Regions from separate parts of the Homo sapiens genome. Here regions 1, 2, 3 and 5 are each linked to region 4. The links come from fine-mapping of genetic effects on gene expression. A gene starts in region 4. Each other region holds a variant in brackets. All regions are shown on one strand. Distances are between the middles of the regions.

What was found.
Region 1: its variant is fine-mapped to the expression of LINC02328 in whole blood (TOPMed, PIP above 0.99). The same link has a PIP of 0.9 or more in blood mononuclear cells.
Region 2: its variant is fine-mapped to the expression of LINC02328 in subcutaneous fat (GTEx, PIP above 0.99).
Region 3: its variant is fine-mapped to the expression of LINC02328 in T cells (TOPMed, PIP 0.93).
Region 5: its variant is fine-mapped to the expression of LINC02328 in whole blood (INTERVAL, PIP 0.98).

Annotation. Positions count from the first base shown.
Region 1 is chr14:86,020,533-86,025,532 of GRCh38, forward strand. All of the region lies in intron 1 of LINC02328 (long intergenic non-protein coding RNA 2328), which reads left to right. All of the region lies in intron 4 of LINC02316 (long intergenic non-protein coding RNA 2316), which reads right to left. Among named protein-coding and RNA genes, the nearest start is that of LINC02316, 40 kb to the right of the region's middle. The variant G/C (reference allele first, on the strand shown) is at 2,782.
Region 2 is chr14:85,734,508-85,739,507 of GRCh38, forward strand. No RefSeq gene overlaps it. Among named protein-coding and RNA genes, the nearest start is that of LINC02328, 200 kb to the right of the region's middle. The variant T/G (reference allele first, on the strand shown) is at 1,883.
Region 3 is chr14:85,958,411-85,963,410 of GRCh38, forward strand. The region is part of intron 1 of LINC02328 (long intergenic non-protein coding RNA 2328); the gene reads left to right. Among named protein-coding and RNA genes, the nearest start is that of LINC02328, 26 kb to the left of the region's middle. The variant G/T (reference allele first, on the strand shown) is at 2,836.
Region 4 is chr14:85,931,724-85,936,723 of GRCh38, forward strand. LINC02328 (long intergenic non-protein coding RNA 2328) reads left to right here and starts at 2,955. Exons shown (of 4, transcript NR_110155.1): 1 at 2,955-3,138. RefSeq lists enhancers at 2,440-2,489, 2,860-3,069.
Region 5 is chr14:85,940,525-85,945,524 of GRCh38, forward strand. The region is part of intron 1 of LINC02328 (long intergenic non-protein coding RNA 2328); the gene reads left to right. Among named protein-coding and RNA genes, the nearest start is that of LINC02328, 8.3 kb to the left of the region's middle. The variant T/C (reference allele first, on the strand shown) is at 2,932.

The sequences.
Region 1 (5,000 bases), 89 kb after region 4:
ATTCTACAAACAATGCAGCAATGAAGATATTATTCAATATTCTATCCTACTGCTTGAAGACTGATAGGTTGTGCCACGCTACTGGCTTCTCTCATTTTCCAGCTTGCAGATGAGTTATGTATCTTTCCAAACATATATAGGTAAGAAATCAGATAAGCATGAAATCTGGATCTCCTGAAAGACGATCTTGGAAAATTACTTTCATTTCATCTAGACTGCTCAATGCACAGAAATTTGTAGAAGTATGTTGCATGATTACTTATACCTACTGAGCAAGAGGGCACACAGATTCTCTAGATTAATTAGGATTGGGGGATAGTAGACTTACATAAAAGGATCCAGAAATCAAACCTAAGTCTGATTATAACCATGTGTTTCCCTGTAATCTATATTCCCTGGCAAGGAGAAATTAATGGAAAGAGGGTAGAGTTAAGACATAAATTCTGAATGTTATCTAATGTTTATAGTGTTACTTTATGTGTGTGCACATGTTTGTATGTGTGGGAGAGTGTGAGAGAGAAAGTGTAATGGAGATGGCTTGGAATGTATCTTAGATTCTTCTCTGATGAATTATTCATCTGTTAGAGTTTTAGTGATTGCATCTTTCATAATGTTTGTATAATTGCTTATCTAGGTAGACTTGATTTTTTACACATCTTTGCACAAACATAACTTTGCATATAACTCTGTTTCTGAAAGCACAATATAATGCTGATTTAATTATTTGGCTGGAAGTACTGCCCTTCACCCCAGATAGTGAATATCCTAATGAGAAAAGGAAGTGAGTCTTATTTCATACATGCCACAAGCATTGTGGGGCTTCAATTAATGTGTGTTGAATTAAATTGCTAGAGATGTAACAACTACTTTAGTTTCAGAATAATAAAAGCAAACACTTACCGAACACTGTATGCCAAGCACAATAGTCTAGGTGATATATCTAGAGCATCTAATATCCTCAATAATCCAACCAAATAAGGACTATTATCATCATTCACATTTTCCTGATTAAAAAAATTAGGGTGAGGTAATATGTTCAAGGTTATGCAGGTAGTAAAAAGAAAAATGGAAATTTATACAAAGGCCCAATTCTTATTTGTTTTTCTTGGGAGAAATGAGGCTCATCTCTTTATCTTCAGGTAGTTACTTCCTCTTAATGAATGGAGAAGCAGTGATCTGTGCCATGCTGTTTGTGAAGTACTTAAAAGTACAATCCGAGTCTTATGACAGCCAATCTAGTGATATTTCCACTACTTCATTAAACTCTGACCTACTTGTAGATGACAACACATCTGCCTTGTTGAAAGTCATATCCCAGAACTTGGTATAGTGACACTCATATTGTCTGTAGCCAATAAATATTTTCTGAATTAATGATTGAAACACAATAGAGCTCATTGAAAGTCATATCCCAGAACTTGGTGTAGTGACCATCATATTGTATGTAGTCAATAAATATTTGTTTGCTCAATTAATGATTAAAACACAATAGAGCTCCCTCAATTTCCATAAGAACTTGATCCTAAGTTAAAAGGTAACAATTTAAGACACACCATTGCAGTGTTAAGGCCTCCATCTATAAAACAGCACATTCTTTATTGCCTTGCAGACCAATAATCATTAACAGACTGGATATCAAGTTTGAATAATAATATACTGAGCTAGGTTTTATAAGGACATTAATTCACATGCACAACTACATCAACCCCTGAGGACTTCGTAGAATGTGAATATAGACATTATGTGATTCATGCCTTAGCTAGGCACCTCTGGGGCATGTCATGATGGCCTGCATTCAGCCACAAGTTGGTGAGAAATATTTGGAAACGTCAGAACTAGCAAAGAACATAAAATGTGCAATTGAAAACTCACCCAGAGATTTCAGTGAGGCTAACTCTTCTGAGATCTGCAAGAGGCAGTAAGCCAAACCTCAGCACTGTCTCAGTGATCAGATAAACACGTGTTTGCATGTGACAGTAGCCTATAACAGATGATCTGTGGGAGCCTGCCAGGGAAGGTGACCTGATTAGCACTTGACTGGGTGCTCTTCCCTGCTTTCTGCCCTGGGCCAATTTCTGGTTTTGTTGCTCAGACAGGCTTGCTTCCTTTGTAACACCGGTATGCAGTCACAGTTTGGGTCCATTTATTTCACACTCATCAATTTTTTTAGTGTGTAATGGAAGGCTTCACTTGGAGCACTAAGACGTAGGATGGGCGTAGCAAACCTGTGCACCACACGCAGAAGGTTAAATCAACCTCATTGCCAGGTAAAAATTGAAAATTGTCAGGACCCTAATGCCAACATTTTTTTCTCCCCTGCCTTTTTTTTTCTTTTAAAATTTATCATTGAAATGGAAAAAAAAATGTTTATTTCAATGTGCAGGTATCTTCATCCCTCACTCAGTTTATGACTATCAAGAAGGACAGTTTGAACCATTAAAAGAGAGTTAAAGAAAAATTCTGTAAGCATGGCTTCTATCTATAGCTCTTCCATGAAGTAGCTAGGCACTCTGCCTTGTGTGTAAGGTAACTTCTGCAACATGAGAGATAAATGGTCTCTAGTGGTCTGTTTTATCCTCTATGATTCAATAATTTTTTTGTTTGACTATTATCTTTTATTTTTTTCTGAAAGAATCACTCATTATGCTCAACATAGTAGCCCTACAGAAGAGAAATCTATAATTCCTAGAATCCATACCTCCCACCTTTTCTCATGCTACGTGGAGTTCTGGGGTTTAAGTATGACGTGGTTTGGCTGTGTCTTCACCCAATCCTCACCTT[G/C]AATTATAATAATCTCTATGTGCCAAGGACAGGGCCAGGTGGAGATAACTGAATCATGCAGGTGGCTTCCCTCATACTGTTCTTGTAGTAGTGAATAAGTCTCATGAGATCTGATGGTTTTATACATGGGAGTTCCCGGGCACAAGCTCTCTTGCCTGCCACCATGTAAGAAGTGCCTTTGCTTCTCCTTTGCCTTCCATCATGATTGTGAGGCCTCGTCAGCCATGTAGAACTGTGAGTCAGTTAAAACTCTATCATTTATGAATCACCCATTCTCCAGTATGTCTTTATTAGCAGCATGAAAAAGAACTAATACAAAGTGCTTTGGTGTGTTTGAAATATTTGCTATATACTAAGTATTTTTCAAGTATTAGATCTCTTGTCTGTTTTTTTTCTTATTTTCTTTTTCCCATGTAAGTTTAGCGCAGTGATGTTAAAAAAGTAAAAGTATTAAAAGCTGCTAACATGAACTGCACAATTAGCAACAACTTTGAGACTTTTGCATCTGACCATGCTGTATGATTTTATTAAACCTGCAATCTCACACAAAAAATTTAGAATTCAGGATACGATGTGTTTAAATATAGCTCCTTGAAGGCATCAGAGCATGTCCAAGGAGCCATGACTTGAGAGAACAAGATACCATAGATTAGATAAATTCATTGAAATGAGCCTGATGTTCCCTAATGCTTTTCTTCTTAAAACCAAGGGAATAGCAGATAATGGGTTAAAAATCTAATGAAAAATTTCTGATGGTCTCAGGAAAAGAAGCATTAGAAATGTAGGGCCTACCAAGGAGCAGGGACCCTGGCAAATATCTCTGGGTTTCAGTTTAGTTTCCTGAAAAGTTACTTCTCAGAATAAATGCGAACAAGACTAGGCCAGACCTCACTCAGGCATGAATTATTTCAATTACAGACTTAGTCAAGGTGCTCTTCTAAAAGAACATTATGTATTTTTTTCTCTTGAGGGAGAAAAATACATAATATCTACAGCCTCTACAATGTTTCATACACTCAGCCCAGAATTTACAAAAAAAATTACAGCATGCCTACCGAGAGGTTCAAAAGATTAAAAGTATGCCAAAATACAGACAACAGAAGTATATAGATTATTATCAGTCATTTAACTTTGTCACTTATTAACTTTAAAATAACTATGAGGAAAATGTTCAAGAAAATAAAACACAATGTGAATAGATTTATCAAAGTACTGCAATCTAAAAAATTATGTAATTAAAATATTAGAAGTGATAGCTACAACTAAAATTTTTAATTTAAATGAGCTAAACAGCAAATTAGAAACAATGATAGGTCTTGAATTAATTTTTATATAAGGTGTAAGGAAGGGATCCAGTTTCAGCTTTCTAAATATGGCTAGCCAGTTTTCCCAGCACCATTTATTCAATAGGGAATCCTTTCCCCATTTCTTTTTTTGTCAGGTTTGTCAAAGATCAGATGGTTGTAGATGTGTGGTATTATTTCTGAGGGCTCTGTTCTGTTCCATTGGTCTATATCTCTGTTTTGGTACCAGTACCATGCTGTTTTGGTTACTGTAGCATTGTAGTATAGTTTGAAGTCAGGTAACATGATGCCTCCAGCTTTGTTCTTTTGGCTTCTTAAATGTTAGATCTAAAACCATAAAAATCCTAGAAGAAAACCTAGGCAATACCATTCAGGACATAGGCATGGGCAAGGACTTCATGTCTAAAACACCAAAAGCAATAGCAACAAAAGCCAAAATTGACAAATGGGATCTAATTAAACTAAAGAGCTTCTGCACAGCAAAAGAAACTACCATCAGAGCGAACAGGCAACTTACAGAATGGGAGAAAATTTTTGCAACCTACCCATCTGACAAAGGGCTAATATCCAGAATCTACAAAGAACTCAAACAAATTTACAAGAAAAAAAAACCCCATCAACAAGTGGGCAAAGGATATGAACAGACACTTCTCAAAAGAAGACATTTATGCAGCCAACAGACACATGAAAAAATGCTCATCATCACTGGCCATCAGAGAAATGCAAATCAAAACCACAGTGCAATGCCATTTCACACCAGTTAGAATGGCGATCATTAAAAAGTCAGGAAACAACAGGTGCTGGAGAGGATGTGGAGAAATAGGAACACTTTTACACTGTTGGTGGGACTGTAAACTGGTACAACCATTGTGGAAGACAGTGTGGCGATTCCTCAAGGATTTAGAATTAGAAATA
Region 2 (5,000 bases), 200 kb before region 4:
GTGCAGAATATGAAAGGCATATTTAGAGTCACTATAAATATTGATACATAGTCCTTTTGCAAGAGTGAGGGCTTGAGTTAAGGCAACTAGTTTGGCTTGCTGAGAGGTAGTGGAGGGGGGCAGAGCGGTTACCTCAATGACAGATGTGGAAGATACTGTAGCATAGCCTGCCTTTGCTGCTGAGTGGCGATTAGGCCTGGCGGAACTGCCATCAATAATCTAAATGTGATAAGGGCGAGGAACAGGAAAGAAGGAAATATGGGGAAATGGAGTGAATGTCAGGTGGATCAGAGAAATACAGTCATGAGGGTCAGGTGTGGTATCCAGAATAATGTGGGAGGCCAGATTGAAGTCCATGCCAGGAACGATGGTAATTGTGGGAGACTCAACAAAGAGTGAGTATAGCTGAAGGAGTTGGGGAGCAGAAAGTATATGCGTCAGGTATGAGGAAGAAAATAGATTTTGGAAGTTATGAGAAATGTAGAGAGTGAGTTGAGCATAGTTTGTGATTTTTAGGGCCTCTAAAAGTATTAAAGCAGTGGCAGCCGCTGCATGCAGATATGAGGGCTAGGCTAAAACAGTAAGGTCAAGTTGTTTGGACAGAAAGGCTACAGGGTGCGGTCCTGGCTCTTGTGTAAGAATTCTGACCGCGCTAACCATGCCTAGGAAGGAAAGAAGTTGTTGTTTTGTAAGGGATTGAGGTTTGGGAGATTAGTCAGACACTATCAGCAGGGAGAGCACGTGTGTTTTTATGAGAATTATGCCGAGATAGGTAACAGATGAGGATGAAATTTGGGCTTGACTGAAGTAATGGGGGCTGTCTGTGAAGCCTTGTGGCAGTACAGCCCAGGTGATTTGCTGAACCTAATGGGTGTCAGGGTCAGTCCAAGTGAAAGCGAAGAGAGGATGGGATGAAGGGTGCAAAGGAATAGTAAAGAAAGCATGTTTGAGATCTAGAACAGAATAATGGGTTGTGGAGGGAGGTATTGAGGTTAGGAGAGTATATGGGTTTGGCACCACAGGGTGGATAGGCAAAACAATTTGGTTGATAAGGTGCAGATCCTGAACTAACCTGTAAGCCTTGTCTGTTTTTTATGACAGGTAAAATGGGGGAATTGTAAGGAGAGTTTATAGGCTTTAAAAGGCTATGCTGTAACAGGTGAGTGATAACAGGCTTTAATCCTTTTAAAGTATGCTGTGGGATGGGATATTGGCATTGAGCAGGGTAAGAGTGATTAGGTTTTAATGGGATGGTAAGGGGTGCATGATCGGTCACTAAGGAGGGAGTAGAGGTGTCTTATACTTGTGGGTTAAAGTGGGGAGATACAGGGGAGGATGTGAAGGAGGCTTTGAACTGGGGGAAAAGGCAGCAATGAGGTGTGGCTGTAGCCCAGGAATAGTCAGGGAAGCAGATAATTTAGTTAAAGGGTCTCAGCCTAATAAGGGAACTGGGCAGGTGGGGATAACTAAAAGGAGTGCTTAAAAGAGTATTGTCTAAGTTGGCACCAGAGTTGGGGAGTTTCAAGAGGTTTAGAAGCCTGGCCATCAATACCCACAACAGTTATAGAGGCAAGGGAAACAGGCCCTTGAAAAGAAGGTAATGTGGAGTGGGTAGCCTCCGTATTGATTAAGAAGGGGACGGACTTACCTTCCACTGTGAGAGTTACCTGAAGCTCGGCGTCTGTGATGGTCTAGGGGGCTTCCGAAGCAATCAGGCAGTGTCAGTCTTCAGCTGCTAAGCTAAGAAGATCTGGGAAGGAGTCAGTCAGAGAGCCTTGGGCCAGAGTTCCAGGGGCTCCAGGAGTGGCTGCCAGGTGAGTTGAACAGTCCGATTTTCAGTGGGCTCCCGCACAGATGGGACATGGCTTAGGAGGAATCCTGG[T/G]CTGCAGGCATTCCTTGGCCTGGTGGCCAGATTTCTGGCACTTGTAGCAAGCTCCTGGGGGAGGCGGGCCTGGAGGACCACCTGGCCACTGCGGTTTAGGTGTTTGGAAGTTCTTGTGTGCTGGAGACATGGCTGGGGTTTGTCTCACAGTGGAGGCAAGGAATTGCAACTCAGAAATATGTTGCTACTTGGCTGCCTCTACTCTACTATTGTACACCTTGAAGGCAAGGTTAATTAAGTCCTGTTGTGGGGTTTGAGGCCCGGAATTTAATTATTGGAGTTTTATTTAATGTCGGGAGTGGATTGGGTAATAAAATGTATATTGAGAATAAGATGGCCTTTTGACCTTTTAGGGTCTAGGGCTGTAAAGCATGGCAGGGTTGCTGCCAAACGAGCCATGAACTGGGCTGAGTTTTTATATTTGATGAAAAAGAGCCTAAATGCTATCTGATTTGGGATAAAGAAAAAGGAGCATTAACCTTGACTATGCCTTTAGCTCCAGCCACCTTTTTAAGAGCAAATTGCTGGGCAGGTGGGGGAGGGCTAGTCACGAATGAAACTGTAAGCCAGACCGAGTGTGAGGAGGGGAGTTGATAAAAGGATTATAGGATGGAGGAGCGGAGGCTGAGGAAGCATTGGGACCTAGCTCAGCCTGGAGAGGAGGGGAGAGGTCAGATGGGTCTGTAGAAAAGAAGGATTAGAAAGACTCAGCGACACTTGGGGTTGGGACTGAGGGGACAGGCGGGAGGGAAAAACGAAAGATTTGGGAGGAGTGGCATTGGGAACAGAGACTAGGGAGGGACCGATGTGTAAAAGAATGCCTGGACATCAGGCACCTCAGACCGTTTGCCCATTTTATGACAAGAATTATTTAGATCTTTTAGGATGGAAAAATTGAAAGTGCTGTTTTCTGGCTATTTGGAACCACTGTCAAGTTTGTATTGGGGTCAAGCAGCATTGCAGAAGAAAATAAGGCATTTAGGTTTTAGGTCAGGTGTGAGTTGAAGAGGTTTTAGGTTTTTAACAACACAGGCTAAGGGAGAAGAAGGGAGAATGGAGGGAGAATGGAGGGTGGAAGCTTGCCCGTAGTGAAGGAGGGAAGCCCAGAGAAAAGAGACAATAGAGACACGGAGAGAAGGGCTGGGGGTTCTTGCCTCCCAGAAAAGTGGAGAAGGGGTAGAGACACGGAGATAAGGGGTTGGGGGTTCTTGCCCCCAGAAAAGGGGTACTTGCCGCTAAGGGTGAAGAAGGGGTTGGGGGTTCTTGCCCCCAGAAAAGTGGAGAAGGGGTAGAGACACGGAGATAAGGGGTTGGGGGGTTCTTGCCCCCAGAAAAGTGGTACTTGCCGCTAAGGGTGAAAGACCAAGGCAGGCGTTCCGGCGTGGTCAGACACCTCTGAAACGTGGGTGAATAATCAGGCAGGTGTCCCCGTGTGATTAAACACCAAGGGAAGACTGTTTTCCCAAGTCCGTGACCGGTGCCGGAGTTTTGGGTCCACGGATAAAACGTGTCTCCTTCATCTCTGCCAGAAAAGGAAAGGAACTGAAATTAAGAGAAGGGAGAGATTGAAGTGTGGCGCCAAGATTGAAAGGAGAAAGAGGTTGAGGGATAGTGAGAGAGGTTGGAGAAGAGAGTAAAAAGAGACCGCTTACCTGATTTAAAATTGGCGAGATGTTCCCTGGGCTGGTTGGTCTGAGGACCAGAGGTCGTAGGTGGATCTTTCTCACGGAACAAAGAGCAGGAGGACAGGGGATTGATCTCCCAAGGGAGGTCCCCCGATCCGAGTCATGGCACCAAATTTCACTCGCGTCAATTTGAAGAGACCACCAAACAGGCTTTGTGTGAGCAACAAGGCTGTTTATTTCACCTGGGTGCAGGCAGGCTGAGTCCGAAAAGAGAGTCAGCGAAGGGAGATAGAGGTGGGGCCATTTTATAAGATTTGGGTAGGTAAAGGAAAATTACGGTCAAAGGGGGGTTGTTCTCTGGTGGGCAGGAGTGGGAGTCACAAGGTGCTCAGTAGGGGAGCTTTTGAGCCAGGATGAGCCAGGAGAAGGAATTTCACAAGATAATGTCATCAGTTAAGGCAGGAACAGGCCATTTTCACTTCTTTTGTGGTGGAATGTTATCAGTTAAGGCAGGAACCGGCCGTCTGGATGTGTACGTGCAGGTCACAGGGGATATGATGGCTTAGCTTGGGCTCAAAGGCCTGGCAATAACAATGGAATATTTCCCATTAGATTTAAGGATTAGGAATGATTGATGACTTCATCAGGTCGTTTTCAAGGAGACACAGCAAATTTTCAGCAATTTAAGAAGTGAAAAAGAGAGATACCATGTATTGAGCTCTGTTTTGATAAGCTGAGGAATGATAAAAGAAAATGTGATAGGGCAATAGCCAAAGAGGATACAACACAGTATACAATGCATACAATAAAGTATTATTGAATATTTTATTTTTGTTTTGTAGTACTTGTATATTCTTAGGGGAATGATCCAGTGGAAGGCAGTAAAGAAACCTCCCTGAGAAAGGAGTGTGTGATCGAAGTTATTTTTAATCAAGATGAGTTATAGGTATTAGGAAATAAAGGTGATATTAATAGGATAGTCTTTGAACCATTGAACTATGGATGGAGTACTTTGAACTATGAATAAAAGCAAGCTTTTAAATGAAGGAGTGAGATAACTTTTTTCTTCTGTAAATTCAGAAACTAGGTAATCTATTGTGATGTGGTGATGGGGAGGAGACTTAGAAGAAATATATGCATATTTGTAAGAACTACTTGTGAATGTGAAGCACTTGACCAAGTGCATGCAACAGGATGTCTGTGCCATGTTCAGGGCCCACCTCAGGTCAAATATCATAATTTTTATTAAGGGCTGAATAATTTTTCTCATAGATGAAGAAATTTCAAAAAATGGGGTAGTTTGATGCAGACACAAGGAATTTCAGTTTGAATAAAATTGCAGACTATGTGCGAAGGGTAGAGAGGTGTTACTATATAAGTTTGTAAGTAATGAATTTCCAACTTGGAAGTAATGATCTCAAATAAGGAGGTCTGTGGTAAACATAAAACAAAGGCCACAAGGAGCAGATTTGATAGCTGAGAAGTGAGTGGTA
Region 3 (5,000 bases), 27 kb after region 4:
GTTGCTACTGGTGTCTTTTTATTATTTGGACAAGTTTTTTTCATGTATACTTTTATCTTTTCTCTCCCCCATCATTCTAATATAGAGTTTAATTGTATCACATTAACTTTCAAATAGCTTATAATTTTACAGGTTGAGAAGGTAACATATGATGCCACAGTTCTCATGGTTTTGTCCACATTCAATTCACCATCTAGAATCATAGATCTTTTTTTGTTTTGTTTTTGAGATGGAGTCTCGCTCTTGTCGCCCAAGCTGGAGTGCAATGGCGCGATCTCAGCTCACTGCAAACTCCACCTTCCAGGTTCAAGCGATTCTCCTGCTTCAGCCTCCAGAGTAGCTAGGATTACAGCCGCCTGCCACTAAGCCCAGCTAATTTTTGTATTTTTAGTAGTGACGAGGTTTCACCATGTTGGCAAGGCTGGTCTCGAACTCCTGACCTCAGGTGATCTGCCCGCCTCGGCCTCCCAAAGTGCTGGGATTACAGGCATGAGCCACCATGCCCAACCTAGAATCACAGATCTTTAGAGAAATGTATGACCAAGGATCCTCTGCCCCCCGATATTTCATTTCCAAATGGGGAAGGGCTCAGGTGGAAGAATGGTGTGCAGCACTACTTTTTCAAACACAACCCCACGGGCATTGTCTGAATTCCATACTTTTCCTGCCCTGTACACAGTGTCACTAATAGCTTTCCTGTCTTTTTTTTTTTTTCTCCCTATCACATCAGCTTGGCTATAAATACTAGTTCCCTAAATTCGATCTTTATTTACTTGCTAACTGTCCACTTCAGTAGGATCTCATCTGCATCAGGCCAGGGATTTTTGTCTATTTTGCTTATTGCTATAGTCATCAAATATAGAATAGCGCCTGGCAAATAGTAAGCATTCAGTAAATATTATGTGAATTGAAAAGAGACGGAAAAACCTCTAAGAAGACTGCCTTTCACCAAGAGATCATTTTCATCAAAAATCATCCCACAGTTCCTTACAGATTCCTCTCTTTTCTGTTCTAAAGTAAGCCCCTCTTCACATATTTCATGAAAATATACACCCACCTCACCCGCTGAAAGTGTCTGTTGAAGTCAAACAGTCCAGAGTTTAAATCTTAACTCAGTTGTCTACTTAGCTATGTGGATCCATAAGTCACATAACATCTATGAACCTGAACCTCAGTTTTGTAATCAGTCATAAATATGATTGACTTGCAGATATGGTATAAGATTTAGAGATAGCCAAGATCGCAAAACCTAGGCATCTGTGAGAGGCTCAAAAGGGAAAGGTAGTTATTGCTATTCCTTTTATTATTACTGGAAAGTATTTTAATGTTCTTAATAAGAACAAGATTTAACTGATTTTTATTAATTACCTACTTATTTGAAGGTGTTTTTTTTAGGCTCTGTCATAGTGATGTTTACTTTTTCCTCTTGAAAGATGCTAGGGTAGAGGCAAATCATCATAATCCAGTTTGATTTGTGGGGGCGCTGGTTTCCCTCTCTTCTTTGGATATAATACTTCAGGGTCTCCACGGAAACTGATAGTGTTTACCAGGATTCCTCCTCCATGTTGAGCCCTGATTTCCAGGTTTTGTCCCCTTGAACCCTTAACAATTTTGAGAACTGCTTTCTTTGCTTCTCAGTATTGAGACCCCACACTTGTGGGTTAGCAAATGCCCCAAAGGGAAAAGCTACACTGGTTGTTGAGCAAACACTTGAGCTTTCCTTTTCTTCAGAACTTATATCTCTTAAGTTCAGGCTGTCTTGATTTTTCTGCAATGCCTTCAGTCAAATTTTGTAAAAAATATTTTCCCTAACTCTTCTTGTTTTTCTCATTGTGAGAGTTGGTCTGTAATAGTGTATCTGCCAATACCATAAGAAAAATCTGTAATATTAATATTTAGAAGTGATATATTATTATTCACAAGTGTTTTTCTCAAAATCATCACTATTTTGAAGCAATAATTCCATATCACCTTTAACGTTTGTAATTTGGTAAATTTCACAAAATATGCTCTGAGACCACAGATTATGCAGCTGAATTTCTAAGTAATGTTGGTCACTCATTGTAATCAATGTGTTTGAAGCCCTTCTATTGTCTTACTATCATTGAACTTCAATTTACATCTGCATTTAAATATCCCATATTTCACCCAAGCCTATTTAAAAAATGGGGTAGTATATTACATACAAGTGAATCAAGGACGATTTGTGATAATATTGACCAGGTTGCCTCTCTGATGCTGGCTGCATAAAAAAGAAGAACCAGCTCTCCTTTGAGATTTGGGGTGAAATGCATCTGTGTGCAGACAACTTTCAGTGCAGATTTGCCTGTACTACTTTATTTATTTAACATGGCTGGCTGACTGTGAGCCCCTCAATGTCAGGCTACATTAGCATGTGTGTACATGTAAAATTAATCAACAGACCCAGCAACTGGCAGCATAGTCCCCCTAGAGCCTGGGGTTAAACATCTGTCTGGAGTGAGGTTTCCTGAAAAGCTTTATATAATGGCCAGAGGAACTCCGAGTAGGCACTTAGTGTGGAAGGAAGGGCAAGACAGATACTTGAGGGGAAGTGCTGGGTTTCAGTGGACTGACAGCCTCGCCATTTTACCCAAAGGTTACAACCTTAGACTCCAAAAGCTTTTAAGGCTTCTTGCTTCTGTATTGCTTGACTGCCTTTAGCATTAAGCACTTATGACCAGGAGATTCTCAGCATATGTCTTTTTCAGCATTTCTCTAATGGAGATGAAAGTGTCTGAATCTTTAAGAAATATTTACCCCATAGATCACAACATTAACTTTGTGATAGGGGGCTGAACTATTTGTTTGTTTTTG[G/T]TTTTTTTCATCCTTTTTTACTGTAAAATAGAACCAGTAGGGTTTAGATCTATTTTGAGGTGGCTTAAAACATCAGCAAGTTTTATTCCTAATATTTGACAAAGTTTGTGATGTGTTAGCAGAAAGCATGGTACAATTGAAAGAACATGAGTTTTGGTTGAATCCTGAGCTCTGCTACTTATTAGCTGTGTGACTGAATCTGTCTCCTTGTTCATTGAATCACACCATGCCATCTCCTTAGGGACATTATCTGTCAATCTAGCTGGGCTTATATGGATTGTGTTCTATTTGGAAGGTGCTCTATAAGCTTTGTCACCCTGGAATGAGACTCAAGAGATCACTCTTATTTGGTTGGTTGTTTGTTACCATAAGTAATATGTTTAAAGAAATTGAGTTCTGTATAGATGCTCTACAAATATACAAATTATTAATAGTGGGGTAAAACAAAACTTGAACAATGGCAAAAATAACTCCTTCCACTTAGCTGTTGAAGATTGCTGAAGAAATGTAGCAAAATTACAACAAATCCATCTTAAGGCAATTTATTTAGAATAGAGACATGCATGGGAGAGTTCCCCCAGGGTGGAAGTGAACAGGTGCATCACCAAGTATCAGTCATTTGAAAGTGAGTTAGCTGTCATGGAGTTGAATCCCGGGGTTTCTTGTTCAATGTCTTTGCATTGAATGTCTGAAGGTGCTCTATTAGTGAAATAAGAAAAAAGTGATTAGGATTTATATGTGTTTCCTTAAATTAGTCTGATTTTAAATAACAGACTTTTTTTTTTGTTTTTTTTAAACCTGAAATGAACTCAATTTATACAGTATATGAGATCAACTGTCTTTCTCTGGGAAATGAATGGACTTGCAGTCAGAAGCTTTGAATTTTAACAATATTCTGCTCCTATCACTTGTGACCTTGGGCATGTTAATTAAACTTCCAGAATATCATCTGCCTCATCTAAAATGTGAATTACAAAAGAGATTAACTTCTCAAAACAGCTTCTTGCTCAGAGAGTAGATGAAGCACAGTGTAATATTTAGATTATTTGCTATCTTGATGGTGAAACAGCTAATTGAAATTTGGGGAGACAGTCACAGTCGGGTACAATTGTTGATCTCAAGAGTAAACGTGGACAGTATAGTTGTTTGTAGAATAATGAACCCACTGCAAATGCCCAATTCCTAATCCCCAGAATCTGTCAATATGCTACCTTACTTTGGGCTTTGTTGAGGTAATCACATTAGGGTTCTGAGATGGGGAGATTATCTTGAATTATCCAAGTGAGCTCAATGTCATCACTTGGGTCCTTAAAAGTGGAAGAGGGAGCCAGAAGAAATCAGAGTGATGCAAAATGAAAAGAAATCAATCTGCCATGGCTAGCTTGATTATAGACGGAAAAAGGAGATCTTGAGCTAAGGAATGTCAGTGGCCTCTAGAACTTGAAAATGCAAGGAAATAGGTCTCCCCTGTAACCTACAAAAAGGAATACAGCACAGCTGACATCTTAATTTTAGTCCAGTGAAGCCAGGTCATGCTTTTAACCTACAAAACCATAAAAAAGTAAAGTTGTGTTGTTTTAAGACATTGAGTTTATGGCAATTTGTTACAGCAAAAATTGAAAACTAATACAAGGCCTAACATGGTGACTAGCATACAGAAGCATCTCTATGATTGAAGGAAGGTTTGGATTTGTTGGGTAAATGAATGAATGAATGAATCAGTATGATAAACATCCATATGGAGCTTTTTGAGGAAAATGGCTAAATGGACCAAGAGCTTTTCACTTTCATGCTTCTTATGCATCCTTTACATTTACAATCAAGATTCTCTTCTTTGGGAAGGGTACCTCGCCCTTAAGAGCCCACCTCTCTGCCTATCAGCACGTATGCATGCTTGCCATAGCAGACATGCTGTGATGCAAATACTAGAGTACGAAGCCATCTTCCTAGAATGGAAGTTGTTGGAGAGAAGGATTTTGTCATCTTCATTTCTCTCTCCCAGTGCTCAGCCCAGACTCCAGCCCAAGTCAGAATGTAATAGATAATGGGTGAAAGAATGAATGGAATGAAGGATGGAAACTGGGAAATGACTGAGGGCTCCATTTGTTCAGGTTTGATCAAATACCTTTGAAAATTGAAGCATATTTGAGTACTAAGGTGCTAGG
Region 4 (5,000 bases):
TAACTGGAGGACCACAATGACGTTTTGGGTTCCCTGGAATCAACGTCAGCTCAGGCCAGTGTACAGTAGTCCCCAAAATGTCTGATCATTTCCCTTTCCCCAATGCACAATTACCCTGGTAAAAGGCCAGATGTCTCTTTGGGGAAGGATGGGAGAAAGATTCACAGCATAAATTGTAAGTAATGTAGTGGGGTTCTTTCTCAAGGGGACCTGGCCTCATCTTCATTTAAGGGGTTCTGGGTCTGTAAACTGGCTCAAGACTGGAAATTGATTGAGGGGCCATGATTCTCTGTTTTTATAATTCAAATTAGTCTTTTGTCCATTCGACCTAGAAGTTTTCTGCTTGTATAAATTAAGCAAAAATGCAGTAGGCTTCCTATTAATTTCACTTCTAGGAACACCATTATTAATTAGCCAATGCCAGAGCTCTACACAAATCAGACTGTTCTGATCGTCACTTTGCCTCTGCTGTCCATTACAGTAGCTATGCCCACCTTGCCTTTGATGGTTGAGTGCCACCACTTGGTCCCTGCCACCTCGGGATCCAATTATTCCCATTGTATTTAAATTTTGTATTGAGTGACTACGGTTCCCACTGTTAGATCTGACATACAGAGAAGGGCAATTACAGGTCTCTTCAAAGATGTAGGTGCTGCCCTCACAAATCTATTTCCCAAGGCATTGATCAAGGGTATATCTTCTGGACCCTGCCAGCTGGGATGAGTAGGTCTAAAGTGAATAATCCACTGTACCATCCCAATCTTCCTAAGCCTTTGGATCCCTTCCTCTACATTAAACCAAAGGAGATCAGGCATTTCTAGCTCACTCGTAGTAGGCCATCTTTTAATCTATATTTTAGCTAAACAAGCAAATAAACTATTAGAACCTTTTTTAACTCCCCCAGCTGAAACATTAAATGAACAATCCCTACTTAGTGGGCCCAAATCAATAAATTCAGCCTGATCCAACTCTATGTTCCTTCAACCATTATCCCACACCCTTAATATCCATTCCCATGCCTGTTCTCCAGATTTCTGTTTAAACTCAAGCAATTCTTTTTGGGTGTAGAACATCTCATGGGTCACACTCTCAACCTCACCTCTAGAGGCTCGCCTGGACTTTAGTCTAGTTATAGGTCTAGAAGGAAACAGGGGTGTTGGAGGTGGCTCCTGAAGATAATCAACTTTACCTTGCCTGGAAACTGCCTCAAGGGAGGCCATCACTGTTGCCTCAGGCAGCACAGGGTTTATCTCCTCAGACAAAGGTGGAAAGGCTGATGGCAGTGTGGGTCAGGGAGGGGATATTGTCTCTACTGGGGATGGGGAAGCTGTTTCCTCTGGCCGAAAAGTTTCATCAGAGTTTACAAACTCAGTGTCCCCAGCTTCATTAGGGTCCTCCCACACGTCCCCATTCCAAGTTGCAGGGCCCCATTCTTTTCTAATCAAAGCGCTCACTTTAACAGTGGACACCTGGTGAGGCTGTGCATGCATCTTTCATTACAGGTCAGCCTACATGATAAGGGTTTGTGTCTGTTTTTCCACAATTTCAGCTCTTTCTCTACAGGAAGATAAGACTCTCACTCAGGGCAGTCTTAGCAGATTTGAGGCTCAGTATCTGCTTCTGAGGCCGGGAGATAGAATCCCTGAGTTCATTATTTTCTTTCATCACTTTTTCCACTGAACTTAGGAGCAACCAACCAGCTTCATTATGTTCCTTGGTTCTCCACATATGGTCAAAGGTATTACATGTAGAGTCACTAAAATCCTTGCCTCTCAGGAGCGATGAATCAGGAGTGTCAAATGCATTTATTTTGCATATTTCTCGAACAGTTCATGCCAAGGATTATCAGTGTTCTCCATGCTATTAGAAGTAGAGTTCTTAGCATTTTTGGCGTCTAATATTAAGCAGCCAACACCAGAAATTCCAAAACCAATGAAAGAACTACATCCTTAATATTCTGTTCCTCTAGAAGACCACTTCTGGTACCAACATCTGTATCAGGGTTCTCTAGAGGGAAAGAACTAATGGAACACACATATATACATAAAGGGGAGTTTATTAAGTATTAACTCACACAATCACAAGGTTCCACAATAGGCTGTCTGCAGGCTGAAGAGTAAGAAGAGCCAGTCTGAGTTCCAAAACTGAAGAACTTGGAGTCGGATGTTCCAGGGCAGGAAGCATCCAGCACAAGAGAAAGATGTAGGCTGGGAGACTAGGCCAGTCTCTCTTTTCCATTTTTCTGCCTGCTTATATTCTAGCCACCTGGCAGCTGATTAGATTGTGCCACCCAGATTAAGGGTGGGTCTGCCTTTCCCAGCCCACTAACTCAAATGTTAATCTCCTTTGGGAACACCCTCACAGACACACCCAGGATCAATACTTTGTATCCTTCAATCCAGTCAAATTGACACTCAGTATTAACCATCACATATGTCTTTGCTATTGTGAGTAGTGTGGCAATGTACATACAATAGCATGTGTTTTTTCCAGTATGATGACCTAAATTCCTTTCGTTATATACCCAGTAATGGTGAGGGACTAAGTGGCTAAGTTGGCTGGACTTCCTGGGTCAATAGGGACTTCCCTAAGGGGACTATCCCCTAAACCCAAATAAGTCACAGCTGCAAGCTAAGGGATTTAAACTTCAACCAATCAAAGGGGACTTTCCCCTAAGCCAAAATGAGTCACAGCTGCAAGCTAAGGGATTGAAACTTCAACCAATCATATAGGGAGTTTAAGGTCTAGCTACAGCCTGATGTTTTTAACCAATCAGGCCCATCAACCCACAAGTGGGTTGAAAATAAGCTAATTGTATAGGACAGAAAAAGGAAAAGGGGAGGGGTCATAAGGCGATATAAGCATAAGACACCCAAGCCAGAAACAGCAACCCTTCTGGGTCCCCTTCCACCACGCAGAAGCTTTACTTTCGCTTTCACTTTACTTTTGCTTTCACTTTAACAAATCTTGCAGCCGCACACTCTTTGGGTCCGCCCGTTTCTCTAATCAAGTTGTAACACTCGCTGCTGTGGTCCACAGCTTCATTCCTTGAAGCCCGTGAGACACGAACGCTTCCATTGAGAAAAACCTTCCATCAGAAGAAGACTTCTCGTCTCAGTGGGACTGCTGAGTTGAATGGTACCTCTGTTTTAAGTTCTCTGAAAAGTCTCCAAACTGCTTTTTATAGTGGCTGAACTAATTTTCATTCTCACCAACAGTGTATAAATGTTCCTTTTTCTCTAGACTCGCCAGCATATGTTGTTTTTTGACTGTAGAGTAATAGCCATTGTAACTGGTTTAAGATGATATAGCATTGTGGTTTTGATTTGCATTTCCCTGATGATTAGTGATGACAAGCATTCTTTCATGTTCGTTGGCCGCTTGTATGTCTTCTTTTAAGAAGTGTCTGTACATGTCCTTTGCCCATTTTTTAATGTATTCTGTTTTTTGCTTGTTGTAAGTTCCTTACAGATTCTGGATATTAGGCATTTGTTGGATGCATAGTTTGCAAATATTTTCTCACATTCTGTAGGTTTTCTGTTTACTCTATTGGTAGTTTCTTTTGCTGTGCAGCAGCTCTTTAATTAGGTCCCACTTGTCAATTTTTGTTTTTGCTGCAATTGTTTTTGGGGACTTAGCCAAATTTTCTTTGCCAAGGCCAGTGTTGAGAAGGATATTTCCTAGGATTTTTATAGTTTGAGAGCGTACATTTGAGTCTTTAATTCATCCTCAGTTAATTTTTGTATCTGGTGAAAGGTAGGGATCCAGTTTCAATCTTCTGCATACTAACCAGTTATCCCAGCACCATTTATTGAATAGAGTGTCCTTTCCTTGTTGCTTGTTTTTGTTGGCCTTGTTGAAGATTGGATGGTTGTATAGTCACAGTTTACCTTGTATCTGGGATCTCCTAACCTCCTAAATAATTTTTTAAAAATTTTCATACATTACGGTTAAGTTTTTGTGCTCTAGACTTTTATGGGTTTTGATAAATGCATAATATCATCTATCCACCATTGCAGTATCATACAGAATAGTTTCACCACTCTAGGCAATCTCTTGTGCTTCACCTACTCAAATCTGTGTCTGTGAACCTCTAGAAACCACTGATATCTTTATTTTCTTTATTTTTTCATTTTTAGAGACAGGGTCTTGCTTCGTTTCCCAGTCTGGAGTGCAGTGGCACCATATATATGGCTCACTGCCACCTTTACTTCCTGGGCTCAAAGGATCCTCCTGCCTCAGCCTCCCAAGTAGCTGGGACTACAGGTGTGCACCACCATGCCCAGCTAATTTTTAATTTTTTTTGTAGAGCCAGGGTCTTGCCATCTTGCCCAGGCTGCTTTCAAATGATATCTTTACCCTCTCTATAAGTTTGCTTTTTCCAGAATGTAATATAATCATGCAGTATGCAGCAGTCCTTTCATGCTGGCTTCTTTCATTTAGCAATACACATTTAAGAATCATCTATGTCCTTGTACAGCTTGATAGCTCATTCTTTCCTATCTCTGAATAGTATTTCATTGTATGGATATACCAGAGTTTATTCATTTCTGTGTTGAAGAACATCTTGATAGCTTTCAGTTTTTGGTGATAATTTTATAAAATTCTATAAACATTCATGTGAAAGTTTTCTGTAGTTAAAATTTCTCAAATCATCTAGGTAAATATCTAAGAACCCAGCTGCTGGATTACAAGGTAAAAATATGTTTAGCTTTGTTAGAAACTGCTAAGTTATCCATCAGAGTGGTTGTACCATTCTGCATTTTCTCCGGTGATGAATGAGAGTTCTTGTTGCTCCTCATCCTAACCAGTATTTAGTATTAGCATATTTTGGTTTTTAGCCCTCTTAATACATGTACAATGTTATCTCATTATTATTTTAATTTTTATATACCTAATGACAACCAATGTTGAGCATCTTTACATGTACTTATTTGCCATATATATGGTGGTATCTGTTTAGAACTTTTGCTTACTTTTTAATTGAGTTGTATTTTATT
Region 5 (5,000 bases), 8.8 kb after region 4:
ATTCTCTTCAATTTGTTATTATTTAGTTGAGAAATTTTGCTTCTGTTCTTAAAGGATATTGGTCAGTAGTTTTCTTTTCTCTTAATGTCTTTATCTGCTTTTGGTAGGAGGGAAATGCTGATATTATGTAATAAGTTAGGAAGTGGCCCTTCTGTTTCTGTTGTGGAGAAACGGCATTATTTGTTTCCTAAGTGTTTGGTAGAATTCATTAACTGAAACCATCTGTTTCTCAGGCTTTCTTTTTTTAAAGTTATGAAATATTGATTGAATTTATTTAATAAATACAGGACAATTCTCATTTTCCTTTGTATAAATTTTGATAGTTTGTCTTTCAGGAGGTTTAGCTATTTAAGCTTTGTTATCAAATATGTTAGCATAACATTGTTCATTATAATCTTTTTTTTATTCTTTTCATGTCCATGGGTTCAGTAGTAATGACTCTTTTATTTCTGATATTGATAATTTCTGTCTTCTCTTTTTTATCTTGGTTAGCCTGGCTATAATTTTGTCAACTTTACTGAACTTTGCAAAGAAAAATATTTTGGTTTGTTTGATTTTTATCTATTATTTCTCTCCTTTTGATTTCTGTTACTTCTGCTCTAATCTTTATTAATTCTTTTATTCTGCTTGTTTTAGGTTAAGTTGCCCTTATTTCTATGGTTTCTTATAGTAGAAAGGTTATTGATTGTAGATATTTCCTCTATTCCAAGATATGCATTTAATTCTATGAATTTTGAAGCACTATTTTCACTGCATTCTCAAGTTTAATAATTGCATTTTAATTTTCCTTTATTTTAAACTATGTAAATGTTCTCTTGAGACTTTTTATTTGACCCATATGGTATTTAGAAGTATATTATATAATTTTCAGATACTTGGAAATTTCTCAGCTAAATTTCTGTTATTGACTTGTAGTTTTGACTGCACCTGTTATCTAAGATTAAACTTCATATTATTCTTATTTTTTAATAAGTATTTTTGATTCTTCTTTCCATTCCTTATGATGTTGCTAGCATTCATTTCTTTTATTCATATGCTTGAATCACCAAATAAATTGTTATTATTACTTTAAACAAATAGTTACTTTTTTGGTCATTTAAGAAAAAGTAAAACAAAATATTTTATTTTATCTTTATTTATTTATTCCTATCTTTTCTAGATACACATTTCTGACATAGCATTTCCTTCTGTTTGAAGAACATCTTTTAACATTTCATGCAGGAAGTTCTGCTGCCAATAAAATTCTTTATTTCTTCTTCACTCTTCAAGGATAATTTTGCTGATTATAGAATTTTAGTTTGGTAGTTTCTTTAAATATTTTAAGTATTTCACTTTACCCTCTTCTTGCTTGTGTGATTTTCGATAAGCCTGCTTTTATCCTTAAAATTGTTCCTCTATAGGTAAGTTTTTTGTTTTTGTTTTAGATCTGGCTACTTTCAAGTTGTTCTTCCTATCTTTAGTTTTCTGCAGTTTGAATTTTATATGCTTTGGAGGAGTGTGTATGTGTGTGTGTGTGTGTGTGTGTGTGTGTGTGTGTGTGTGCATTTATTTATTTATTTTTCCTGCTTTTTGTTTTTTGAATGTCCTTGATTTGTGGCTTAGTGTTTGCCGTTAATGTTTTAGATTTCTTGGTCATTATTACTTCAAATCTTATTCCTTCATTCTCTTTCTTTTCCTTCAAATAATATGCATATGATGCCTTTTAAAATTATACTGCAATTTATTTTTAGCTTGTTTTTGGTTTTTCTTTTATTACAATTTTTGAATGTTCTGTCTTTTTTTGTACTACTTTTCCCTTCGCATATATTTTGAGAATTCTCTCTAACAGCCTATTTTTAACCTCGCTGATTCTTTTCTGAGTTATTTGGAGTCTACTAATGAGCAATAAAAGGCACCTCTTCTTTTTCCTGTTAAGTATTTTCCTATTTCTAGTATTTCCTTTTGATTATATGCAATTTTGATAGTCTCAGCTTTGGCTCACAGAAACATCAATTGTCTTTCTATGGGAGCAGAAACTTGAATGAGAGTCCCATTAAGTCAACAAGTAGATAATTTCAAATTTCTAGATTTTTGAAATTATGACATTTGACATTCAACCAGTTAAATTATTTTTCTGAATCTATTATTTGGTCCGTCTAAATATGTTCTCATACCTGACTTAGTAGAAAGTAGAATTTAATTTTGATTGCATATTTAGTGCTAAGACACGTGTAGAACGACAACATATGCTAAAGCCTAAATTTTATAGTCAGGAGTGGCCATTTGTATCAGGATCAAGCATATAATGAGAATTACTCACATTGAAGTGTAGGAAATCAGAGCACCCGTATCTTTGATTCATTCTCAAGACCAAGTCAACTGGATCTAACATGAATATCAGGTGATGAAATAAAAGTGTGGCAAAATGTGAGCTAAAGACATTCTTATGGGCCGACATTGCTGTTATTCTGCTGTTAAAGCTAAGAACTCCTGCCTTGATGGATCATCTTTCTACAGATTAAAGTATAGTGTAAAGTCCATTTTTGTGTAGACTAAAGTACATTGTAAACAATAGTATCTGGTGATTGGTAAAGAATAGGCAAAGCCTACTTCAAGCCTTTCTTGAAGAGTGCCAATCATAAAAACAATATAGATACATAAACCATGTGAGCAATTCTAAATACTAATATCCCATGTTACAGTATGTAACATTTTAAACAAGTGCTGTACTTCAATATGATTCATTATACTCACCAAATGCTCTAGATAAATATATGTAAACAGTTTTGCCCATCATTCCTCCAAAATTCTCCTTTCAGCTCAGAGTGCACTGTTTAACAATCAAAGTTCCTCAAAGCATTGCCTTATGAAAAGGTTAGCATCAGCATGACACATTGGGGAAACTGCAAAAGCAACTTTCAATTGCAGCATTTCATTTCAACACACCACAAA[T/C]TATCGCTCTTTGCTAGGATTTTGAACTGAAGAAAAAAGAAATGTCCAAATACCAAACCTCTAAAATATTTTTGTTTCCTTTGAAATAAGAGGAAGAAAACACTTCCTTGCAACCACTTGAAACAATAATAAGGCAGGTGTAACCATTACAGGGTAAAATTCTTTGTAAAAACTGTCACTAGACACTCAGACTAGGTGTCCTCATGCAGTAACTTGAGAGATCATTGATGCCATTTTTTTAAAGCAACAGCGAAACTTTGGGTCTGACAAACCCCATTCTTTTCTCAAAAATTCAACTGCGTAATAAGATGGCACTGCCTCTATACATCCATTTAATTTCTGCCAAAGGTATCACAAGCAATTTGCTCTCTAATGAAAATCATGAAAGGACTGTGTCTCATTTTGCAGGCAATTTTTAGTAAAAACCACAAGGGACTGGCATACTGGCATCTTATTTTCAGCTGGTAGGATTAGTTTGTTGAAAAAAAATGTAGAATGCTGAGATTGGAGAGTGGACAGAACTAACAGAGCCCTGGAGAGGAAGCCATTGTGCTCAATTATTGTTTGTGGAATGAATGAGTGAATGAATGACCAAACTATGAAAATCCCCAAAAGGATGTTTGCTGCAATGTTTAAATTAAATCCTCAAGTTGATTTTTTTTAAAAAAATATAACCATGAGGGAGATACCAATGAAGTCACAGCTTGTAAGGTATAATTCTCATTTTATGGTGTCAAATGAGATGGCACCAATGGGAAAATCATTCTGTCATTTAATGAATATATATTAAGTCCATACTGGGTTCCAGGAAATGTACTAGGTTTGTGAGGCACATTTAATAACACTACATATATTGCCCTTCCTTCAGAGAGCTGCAGTATAGTGGAAGAGGTAGGCATTCATCAAATAATCTCTTACAAATACCATTAGAACTTGTGATTAGTACTTTGGAAGAACAGTATAGGGAACTGTGGGACTATGAGGGTAGGTGTGGGGTCTGTCATCTGATTGGGGAAGTGGGGAAGAATGCCATCCTTGAATATATGTGCTGGAGCTAATATATGCAGTTTGAAAAGGCATTAACTATAGTAGGGAGTAGGAAGGCTCATTAGTCTGCTTTCATGGTGCTTATAAAGACGTACCTGAAACTGCAAAGAAAAAGAGGTTTAATGGACTTACAGTTCCACATGGCTGGGGAGGACTCACAGTCATGGTGGAAGGCAAGAAGGAACAAGTCGTGTCTTACATGGATGGCAGGAGGCAAAAAGAGAGCTTGTGCAGGGAAACTCCTGTTTTTAAACCATCAGGTCTCGTGAGATTCATTCACTATCATGAGAACAGCACAGGAAAGACCTGCCACCATAATTCAATCACCTCCTACTGGGTTCCACTCATGACACGTGGGAGTTACAATTCAAGATGAGATTTGGGCGGGGACACAGCCAAACCATATTGGAAGGAAAACGAAGATTCCAAGTCCTGAAGTAGGAGTCATTTTGACTTAGAACAAGTACTTTGTTAAGCTGTGTATAGACTGAACATGTCAAATGGAACCAAGTACAGATGCCCAAGAGTGAGGCAGGCCCAGCATGCCCAGGCTCTGCCTCATTGTCTGAAACAGTGAGACAACCTCAGGCAGACCAGAGGCCAAATCACAGTCCTGCACCACACAAGGGAGCCACTGCTGAGACCTAAGCCAGGTACAACTGTGGCCTCCTACACGGAGGATTTTCAAAATTCCACTTTTAATCCTTACCCATCTTCAGAGCTCATGTGTGAACACATTGGTAACTCTTCCATTTTATTTTATTTTATTTTGATGTGAAGTCCTTCTTTTCTCATAGATTTGCTCCATTTTCTCTATTAGATATCCTGAGAATGGCTCAGTGAGATGTCCTCCCACTTGGTCTGATGGAACACACATCAAATATGCAAATCCATCCATGCAATTTCTCTATCTGAGCTTTTATAATTTTCTATGACTTGAGACAACTCCAGCTTCCTTGTTGGGCATTTGAACCCCTAACAATTTGGCCTCAGCCCGTCTCTTCAGTTTTATGTCTGCAACT